Linked DNA regions of Homo sapiens: region 1 is reported to be linked to region 2. The links are microRNA targets in miRTarBase. Many come from high-throughput screens and were not tested one by one. Region 2 holds a microRNA gene; the other region holds the end of a gene's coding sequence.

The links. The annotated mature microRNA hsa-miR-374b-5p reads AUAUAAUACAACCUGCUAAGUG and lies in region 2 at 1,600-1,621, opposite strand. An mRNA with a match to its seed (bases 2 to 7 or 8) in the 3' UTR can be bound and repressed. Matches are read on the target gene's strand: a 7mer-m8 pairs with bases 2 to 8, a 7mer-A1 pairs with bases 2 to 7 and ends in A, and an 8mer does both.
Region 1: miRTarBase lists RHOU as a target of hsa-miR-374b-5p. Seed matches in the 3' UTR shown: 7mer-m8 at 866-872, 7mer-A1 at 1,082-1,088, 7mer-m8 at 1,920-1,926 and 7mer-A1 at 3,388-3,394.

The regions. Positions count from the first base shown.
Region 1 is chr1:228,742,990-228,748,056 of GRCh38, forward strand. RHOU (ras homolog family member U) reads left to right here. Exons shown (of 3, transcript NM_021205.6): 3 at 296-3,675. The coding sequence ends at 751. Among named protein-coding and RNA genes, the nearest start is that of RHOU, 10 kb to the left of the region's middle.
Region 2 is chrX:74,216,988-74,222,061 of GRCh38, forward strand. MIR374B (microRNA 374b) reads right to left here and starts at 1,631; the gene lies at 1,560-1,631. All of the region lies in intron 5 of FTX (FTX transcript, XIST regulator), which reads right to left. MIR421 (microRNA 421) reads right to left here and starts at 1,474; the gene lies at 1,390-1,474. MIR374C (microRNA 374c) reads left to right here and starts at 1,562; the gene lies at 1,562-1,631.

The sequences.
Region 1 (5,067 bases), not on the chromosome of region 2:
CACTTTTTCTATGTTAAGCTGTAAGTAGGTCTTGAGTGTCGATGAACACGTTGAACATGTTTGGCAGTGTTCAGACCATAGCTGGCCCTGAAAGCAGATGGCTGCCACACCTTCGCTGGTGCACTGGCCCCGCTTGGGTAAACAGTAGGATCGTTTCAAGGATGCTGGCTCTTCCTTCTAGAACCAGCGGGTCTTCTATCACCTGCCAGACCCTTTCATGAAAAATGTGAAGGTGATCTTTTTACTGATGAGAATTCATGAAAACATAACTTTTGGGTACTTTGCTTGGTTGCAGGATGAATTTGACAAGCTGAGGCCTCTCTGCTACACCAACACAGACATCTTCCTGCTCTGCTTCAGTGTCGTGAGCCCCTCATCCTTCCAGAACGTCAGTGAGAAATGGGTGCCGGAGATTCGATGCCACTGTCCCAAAGCCCCCATCATCCTAGTTGGAACGCAGTCGGATCTCAGAGAAGATGTCAAAGTCCTCATTGAGTTGGACAAATGCAAAGAAAAGCCAGTGCCTGAAGAGGCGGCTAAGCTGTGCGCCGAGGAAATCAAAGCCGCCTCCTACATCGAGTGTTCAGCCTTGACTCAAAAAAACCTCAAAGAGGTCTTTGATGCAGCCATCGTCGCTGGCATTCAATACTCGGACACTCAGCAACAGCCAAAGAAGTCTAAAAGCAGGACTCCAGATAAAATGAAAAACCTCTCCAAGTCCTGGTGGAAGAAGTACTGCTGTTTCGTATGATGCTGGCAAGACACCCAGAAAGGCTATTTTCAGATGAAATCGATATTAGAAGCTATATTAGCTGAAACAACTCCTTTTACTGCGTAGAACCTATATCGAGAGTGTGTGTATATGTATTATAGGAGGAGCTCTCAATTTTATGTATTCTTTCTGCCTTTAATTTTCTTGTTTGTTTGAGCTTAGGGATGAGATACTTATGCAAGATATTTTTGAAGTAAATTAAACATTTTTCACATCTCTGGAAATTTAGAGTTCTAGACCTCTGGTTAATTTATATCTAATATGAAGAAGACACCTCTAATCTGGATGTTAAGAATGAAGTTCTGCTACATTATAATGTACAGAAGAGCAAAAGGGAGGAACACTATGGTTAACCCTCTCTTGATTAAGGGCTACTTAATGCACAGTGCATTATGTACACAGGTCAACCATGGTAACAATAGTTCTTAGCTTTGAAACTCCATGCAAACCATGCCTTTTTTTTAAGGAGCAAAAATCTGAGAAAAAAAGTGAGAGACCTCTGCCTACAAAACCTCAAACCAGTCACTTTTGTCAATTGCTAATACCCAGTTACTTATGATTTAAAAACAACCAACAGAAAACATCCCACTGACTGTATGGCACTCTGTAGTCAAAAAAGGAAACTTCCTTATTGGGACTTTTCTTTCTTAGTCCAGTTGTGTTGACACATATGAACACAGACAAAGTGCTATGCGGAGGAAAGCAAGTGTTGGTCAGTAGTTTCATGTTTTAGGGAGTGGTTCCTGTGGAGATCAGAAAGTGACATTTGCTTTCGGTACTGTAATACGTGCACCAAACTGCCTCAATCCTAGGTAACGAGGGCAACAGGGAGCACCTGTCTGGATTGTTTTTAAACCTCCATACTCAAGCTGTCTCTTCGGCAGGGAGGTGAATACTCTTGAAAGGCCAACAGCAAGTGTTTGTGGGACACAACACAGATAATTTTTTCTTAAGTCGGCCAAGATGTACTTCTCTGTGTGCACACCCATGCACACTCATGCACACAGATACATAGGTCTGTATGGCTGTATTTGCTGTTGATTCAGACTTTCACACCATTAATGGGGAAAAGCGTGGCCACAAAAACAGATGCTAGGAAGCTTGGCTTCCTCTTCTTGTTGACCCTTTTTTGAACCAACATCTTTTTTATTATATTCAGAGTATGTTTTTAAGTGTATCTTAATATATACATTTTTTAGGACATCTTAAATCTAAACAAAAAATAAAATGAACATCTCTTGAAACCTGTTAAAACAACCAGTTAAAGCCACAGATGGCTTTCAGGGCAGTAGCAGCAGAGGCCAGTGGACTCTGAGGACTCCTGAGGGGCGGGGCGTGTAGCCAGCCAGGTGCATGCCGGGACCATGGCCCCCATACTTGGCTGCTTCCTGTGACAGTGAAATACATCCTTCAAGGTGGCAGCTGTTAGGGCTGAATCTTCTGGAGAAAAAGGTGCCATCTCAGGAGAATAGCTTTTACTCTGGTAGGAATGCTTCCGAGACACCACAAGGCAGCCTGAACACTCAGTTGCAGGGTCGGGCTTGCGGTGGGTGACCCAGAGCCACCAAAGTCACATCCACAACTAATGAGGGAAATCTGTAAAGCCAGTTAGATAGAAGAATTTTATTTTTCTGTGGGTTTTGTGTTGTCTTTTTTATGTTAAAAAGAAATCCAGTTTGTGTTTTTCTATAGAAAAAGTAAAAGATCAGGTTATACTTTAGGTTAGGGGTTCTATTTATTCCTGTTAGTAAATAAAATTAACAAATTTCTTTGTTTAACAAAAGATTAATCTTTAAACCACTAAAATACATAGACTGATTGATTATTCAACACATTGGAATTGATGTCGGTCATAGTTTCCTGAAGCATTTAGTTACAACCTGAAGGAATAAAATGATTTGTGGAAATGCTTAAAATAGACCTAACTGAATACAGTCTCATCTTGCCGCGCCTGGCTTACCTATCTGTGGAAAGCTAGGCTTCCCAGGCTGGGCTCTGCCTGTCTGGTGCCTGGAGGTGTGGGAGGGAAGATGAGTTATTTAACTGGTAAGCGATTTGAAACACTATTTTTATATTAAAGTAAATGGCATGGAGTATAGTGCAAATTCATTTTTAAGATAGAACACAAAACTTGAAAGAAGTTTTATGCGTGTGACAGTGTATGGGGCTGCAGTTGGTCTCCCTGGAGGGGACTTCCACACCTCCTGCCTTTAGGCCATGGGTGGAAAGTGCTCAGTGAAGTACACCTGTGTGGCCCAGTTCTGAAAGCTTTATACAGTTGAATTTTAAGTGGGGTTGATAACACCTTGGACTGTTAGTGTTAAAAATCTAGTGGGTTGACCTTTAAATGCAACAGTTTTTAAAATATATTGCTGCATTTTATAGAATAGTAAAGGTACGATTATACTTGAGATTTTCCTCCATTTTTATTTCTTCGTGAACATAGAGTTTGGGGCCGAAAATGTTTTTAAAGTATGTGTTTGAGTTAAATATAAAGTTGGTTCACTTCAAAGCTAAAAAATTGTTAAACTTGCAGCTTGGTATTGCAGAGAAGATTTTATAAGAATTTTGCTTTAGAGAATGCCACTTTGGCTGAACTACAAGTGTAGGCCACCATTATAATTTATAAATACAGCATACTTCAAAACTGTTTGTTATCTCTTGTTACCATGTATGTATAAATGGACCTTTTATAACCTTGTTCTCTGCTTGACAGACTCAAGAGAAACTACCCAGGTATTACACAAGCCAAAATGGGAGCAAGGCCTTCTCTCCAGACTATCGTAACCTGGTGCCTTACCAAGTTGTGCTTTTCTGTTTTCAAGTGTAAATGATGTTGAGCAGAATGTTGTACTTGAAAATGCTATAAGTGAGATGGTATGAAATAAATTCTGACTTATGAATATAATGGCTCTTGCCTTTTCTATCTGAGAATTTTGTTGGAGGTGTTTAGCCACATCTTGAAGCAGCACTAGTTGGGAAGCATCGTGGCTTACCCTGAGAGGTGTTTTGGGAATGCATCTCCAACCAATTTGAAGTGCTTATTCATTCAGCATGGGGTTTTCTGAATTCTGGAGCCACAGTCTGACAATAAGCACCCGCCGACTACATGTTCCTCACAGACTGTGTGCTGATGTCCCAGTGTGTTGGAGGGAGCACTGTTCTTGGAGCCAAAAGTCTGGGCTCAGAGAAGCACTAGTGTGAGATGAAGCTGAGACAGCCAGCGATCTGAGCCTTGGTTTCCTCATCTGGAAACAGTACTGCCTTTCTCATCAGGCTATCTGAATCCTGAACATGCAGAGGAGACATCCAAGATCTGTAAATCACCATGAAAGAGGTTAGAGTCAAAGGCACCATGAGCCCTTACCAGCTGTAGAGCTGAGGACCAGGGTTCCCAGGTCCTGAGGGTGCGGAGAGGTGCTGTTGTGTTCTGTGTGATTTCTTCAGGTTCTTGAAGTCAGTCGGTTTTCCCATCATGCCGTGAGGATGCAGCCCTTTTACTGAGGGCTCCGGGAAATGGGACCCTGGGGAGACGACTATTCTGAGGGGCTGGAAGTCTTCTTGCTTTCACCCTCCAGCCTCAAGGTCATCCTGTGAAGGATGGAGCCATCCACTTTGCTCCACATGGCACTGCATAGGCCATGATATAATTTTTATGAGTACCCACCAGATGTTCAGCCACAATGAATGGGAAGACTGCATGGCATGCAAGTGAAACTACTGTACCACCTAATTCCACACATGACTGGGGAGTGCCAAAAGCACCCCAGGCACTGGTTTCCCGGCCTCCACAGGGCAGCTGACCCCAGCCCAGAGGGACTCAAAGGTTTCTCCACACCCAGTCCCAGTCTGTCTCCCGTGTCCTGGCTGGGCCTTCCTGGGACACATGGAAAGCGCATCCAGCCACTGTAGGAGAGGTGACCATGTGATTCACTGAGACATTTATGGATTCAAAGGGAGGGAAGGAATGAGAAGCATCTGGGAGAAAAGTGTTCTAAAAAGAAAGAAGGTTCAAAGGCCCCAAGGCAGAAGGGCATCTGGTATGTCCCAGAGGCCAGTCTGAACAAGATAAAAGGAGTGCAGAGAGAGATAGGGAGATGATGTCAGGATGGTGATAATGGGAGGTGATGGTGGCAACCAGGGACATGGGGAGGAGTCAGGCTGCTTGGGCTTGAATTCTGGCTCTGCCACTTACTGGTTCTGATTCCTTAAGCTACTTAACCTTTTAAGCCTTCTGAGTCCAAACAACTTTCTAACCTCCCAGGTGGATAAGCATGGCACCTACCCAATCAGCT
Region 2 (5,074 bases):
TGACCTCAGGTGACCTGCCCACCTTGGCCTTCCAAAGTGCTGTGATTACAGGTGTGGGCCACCGCGCCCGGCCTTAGTTTGGATTCTTAAATCCATTTCTGTGTAACTCGTCTCTTGCTAGCTGTCCACCCCTCAATCAATCAAGGCAACCAAATACTGCTAGTGACAATGCCCCAAAACCACTTCATATTTTCCTGAGCTTCTAACCCAGTTTCAAACTCATTTCTTACTTTGATATACCATAAGCTCTCCTGTTAATGGTCTCACTCCAGCGTTTTGGCCTGAATATTCCTTAGGGACTCTGGTTCATATTTAGCCCTCTAGTATTTCTGTTCCAGCAGCTTTTGTCTTCATATTCCTGTTCCTGGTCAGCTTCCTCCCCATCATCCACCTCTACAATTACAAATCTTCACCACCCTTGCCAAGTCCTCTTCCTTACTCCTATCCCTATCTCTGTGCTCCAGCAAAGAGGTAGTTCCACTTACCTAAGGCTAACCCTCCACCTGCATGTGTTCTAGAGCCATAAATTTCACCCTTCCAGCTTCACCTGCATCATCTTTCAAGATCATCTTCCATCTATTATCATCTCTCTCTTTCTCACATCTACAATGACTCCCTTCTCAATTCCTTCTGCCCCATGGTCTGCAAACACACTCAATTTTTTTCTCATGTTAAATGATTCACTGTAAGGCGCTGGATAAGTGGTTTTAACTTGTATTCTGGTTGTCACATCTACAATCAGAAAAGCTTCTCACAAAATAATGATTAAGTACAATAAATAAGATAAAGAAAATATGAACCTGGTGAGAGGTGAACAGGACGGTGGAGGATTACCTGTCAGTGCAGGTAAGGGGATAGCTGGAGTAAAGTTGAAAGGGGAAAACTTTAAATATCAGCCACAGGAGCAAACCTCAGACTGTGAGGATGAGGTTTCTGTTCAGACAATGAGCACTCTGGTCCAACCCAGGGAGCAATTAGCAGCAATTACAGTAGCAGCAACAGCCATGCAACATCAGCAAGTAGCTAAGACCAAAATGCAGGCATAGAAATGAAGTATTTCATAGAAAACAGAGTAGCAAATATGACATATGAGGCACTTGTGCTGCTACTCCCCCTTCTCCGACCCTCAGCAGACATCACTAAATAGTTATAAATGTCTTTCACACTGAGATAAGACCTGGTTTCAGAATCTTGTTATAAAACATAATCAGGGCAGGCATTATCAATCAATTGGAGATGGTACTTGAGATGAAGTGTATTTGCTATCATTGCACTACACAGAAAAGTCCTCAACAAAAGAATTAGAAGACAGGAATAAGCTTCAGGAGTAAGCATTCTGAAGAGAGCTTGGACGTTGTTGGCAACTGGCGGGGACAAGCTGAGCCCATGGAGATCACAGAGCAGGCGCCCAATTAATGTCTGTTGATGATTCATTTTTTCATTCAACAAACATTTAATGAGGCCTACAATGTGCACCGGATTAGGCACTGTGAATACAAAGATGAGTAAGGCACTGTCCTTGCCCTTAAGGAATTTAAAGTCTGGTAGACGAGAGCCATAGACACGGACAATGATAATACAACCTGCTAAGTGCTAGGACACTTAGCAGGTTGTATTATATCCATCCGAGTAGGATTTCTTCAGAGGAGCACCACTCCAGGTTGCTGCTGGATCCATGAAGTCCTCCCAGGCACCAGGGTCTGCTGTTGTTTTTGTCACGTGCTGGGTGTCCCAAGATCTAACAATAATAGCTGTAATTAATGTATAGAGTGCCTATGACAAACACTTTACAAATATCTTCATGGAAACTCTGAAAATTAATAGTTATATTAGAGGAAGAAACTGAAGTTCAACAAGTTTAAGTCACACAGCCAGCAAGCAGTTGAATTAGGTTTCAAATCCAGTTTTGACAAAGTCTAATGCATTTTTCTGTTTTCAGGATAACCTTTATGCAGGTGTAATACAACAACTTTTCAACAGCTTTCTATTTGGAACTAAAAGCAAAGGCAATAGATTAGTCACTAGATCATGGAGTGATTAATTTGGTTTCCCACTCTACCTGGCAGAGAAATAAAAGGTGAAATGACCTCACACTTACATACCATTGAAAACCTTCAAGTCAGTTACTGTTTTTCTTTCTCAACCCTAACATCGTCACTGATCATTCAAAATATAAGTACCTCTAGTCAAATCTCTTCTTTTAATACTTGTCATAGTCAACACCATTATCAGCAACAACAGTTGACACAGCATTTAGCTGTATATTCCAGGCCTGTTCTAAGCAATTTACATAATTAGTCCCTTTAAGTACTTTTTACCCCCATCATTGAAAATAAATATTATTCCTATTTTACATAAGAGAAAACAGAGTCCTGGGGAAGTGAAGAATCATGCTCAAGACCACATTGCTAAGTGTGAGAGCAGATTTGAGCCCAGGCTACCTGGTCCCAAGACCCAAACTCTCACTTTACATAGCTCTGCTGCACTGCTCAGGGCCTCCTTTCCCAACTCTTGATGGCAAGTTACACAAGGCCCCCTGAAAAACCCAGTCCTACTTACATAAAATCTCATCACTAACCATTCTGGTCATAGAAAGCCATTCTCTAAATCCCAAATATCAATACTCAGAGCCTTAATTGGAAAATTTCCCGAAGAACATTGAGTTTAGAATATACCTTTGCAAAAAGAGAAAATAAACACTCGATATGTTTAGGTTTTTAATTATTGAATTTTTTTTTTACTTGCAGATATAGTCATAAACGTTTTAAGATCCATAAGCAAACTAAAGCAATTATGCCAATAATGACTAAGGCCACTGCTTCCTCAATTGAGTCTTTGATATAAAAGCCTTCACTTTTGGTTAATTACAAAAAAAAAAAAAAAAAAAAAAAAAAAAACCGTGGGAGATATGTGACAGTGAGAGTAGGCCTGCTACTGATGAGAAGGACCAGCAACTTAGCAACACCATAAAATGTCTGCTGCAATTCAGGTGTCTAGGTGTCTCCCTGAGAATCAACATTTCATATACAGCTGTTCCCAGAAAACAATCTTGCACAATCTGTACAGTCAAGTTATGATCTAAAAGGAGTTAATTGCAACATTCATCCAAAGAATATGACAGTATTTTTCATCAAGGTCTTTTTCTATAAGTTTTTCTATAACTTTTCCTATAAGTTCTATTATGTCTATACAGTCATGTGCTGCCTAACAATGTTTAGGACAATGATGAACCTCATATATGACAGTTGTCCCACAGTTGTCCCACCACAAAATCATATCATATTTTTACTGTAGCTTTTCTATGTTTATATATGTTTAGGTACACAAATACTTACCATTCTGTTATAATTGCCTACAGTATTCAGTACAGTCATATGCTGTACAGGTTTGTAGCCTAGGTGTGTAATAGGCTATACCATTTAGAGAGGTTTGTGTTAATATACTCTATGAAGTTCACATGACAAAATCGCCTAACAATACACTTCTCAGAACATATCCCCATTGCTAAGCAATGCATGACTAAATTTTTATAACTTCCTAAGAGGTTATCCCCTCTTCGCCACTCCCACTCCTTTCAGCCCTACATCATTTCTCATCTTAGCCACCACAGTATCCTTCTAACTCATCTCCCTGTCCAGATTTGAAAACATTCCTGAACACACCCCACACTACTGCCAGTGATCATCTAAAAGCATCCCTTTCTGAAAACACTTATAATGAAATCCAAATCCCATGGCATACCATATAAAGTTCTATTCCTGGCCTACATTTCCAACCTAATTTAGAGAACTATTTGTAGTTCCCCAAACTCATCATACTACTTCCAATGTCCATGCTTTTGCTTGGAAAGCCTTTCCCTGTTTTTCACCTAGTCAAAAGGTGACTTTACTTCTTTAAAGACTCAACTCATATACCAGGTACTCTGAGCTCTGTCATCTCCAGACTCTGTAAAATGATTTCTCTTTGAACTCCAGAGTATCTTATACATACCTCCATTGTAGAGCATACCATATTGTTGTAATTATATGTGTACATAGATGTTGATCTCTCTCACTAGACTGAGAACTCCTTGAGGACGGGGATGGTGTCTAATTCATCTCCATATCCCCACTACCCAGCACAGTGCCTGGCAGCTCAAATGACAGCAGAGAGGAGAGATGCTGAATATGCAGGAGTGAGAATAAAGCAATGTTCTTGAGTAGTGGTACAATACAAATATGCTGAATGAATTGAAGCTATAGAAAAACATTTTGGGGCTCAATGTTGTAAAGAGGTCTCAAAAGAAGGGACAAGCTAACTCAAGGAGGAGTCCCCAGTTACCAAGTAAACTTACTCAGAAGTTAAAAGACCATTTGTTGGGTATGTTATCCAGGGACTTGAACTGGGGTTAGTTTAAAATAATCTATTTGGGATAGGAGACTTTTAAGGTCCTCCCATACTGGAGCTTCTAAATCTATGATCAGTGCCACAGTCAAGAGAGCCATCATTCTGAGAGCCTATGTCACAGAGTGAATGGTGACTCCCACAGTTGTGGACAAAGGCTAAAAACAGATCACAAACTTATAACTCATTTGGTTGGGTGTGGCGGTTGACACCTATAATCCCAGCACTTTCGGTGGCTGAGGTGGGCAGATCACTTGAGCCCAGGAGTTTAAGACCAGCCTGGACAACATGGCAAAACCCCATCTCTACGAAAAATACAAAAATTAGCCAGGCATGGTGACATGTGCCTGCAGTCCCAGCTACCCAGGAGGCAGAGGTGGAAGGATCATCTGAGCTCAGGGAGGCGGAGGCTGCAGTGAGCTGGGATTGTACCACCGCACTCCAGCCTGAGCAACAGAGTGAGACCTTGTCTTAAAATGATACAAAAACAAACAAAAAAAAACCCTCATCCTCTGTTGATCCTGTTCCCAATTGACCCTTGAACCTGGCGCAGGAAGTGTTTTTAAGGCCAACAAGAAGGACATCATGACCCTAAATATATCCTCTACAAGCTGCTACCTAATGTTTTAAATTCCCCCTTAAACCTTTGGTGCCTTTCATTCATGTTTGCTAAAATGCCACTTAATCTAAT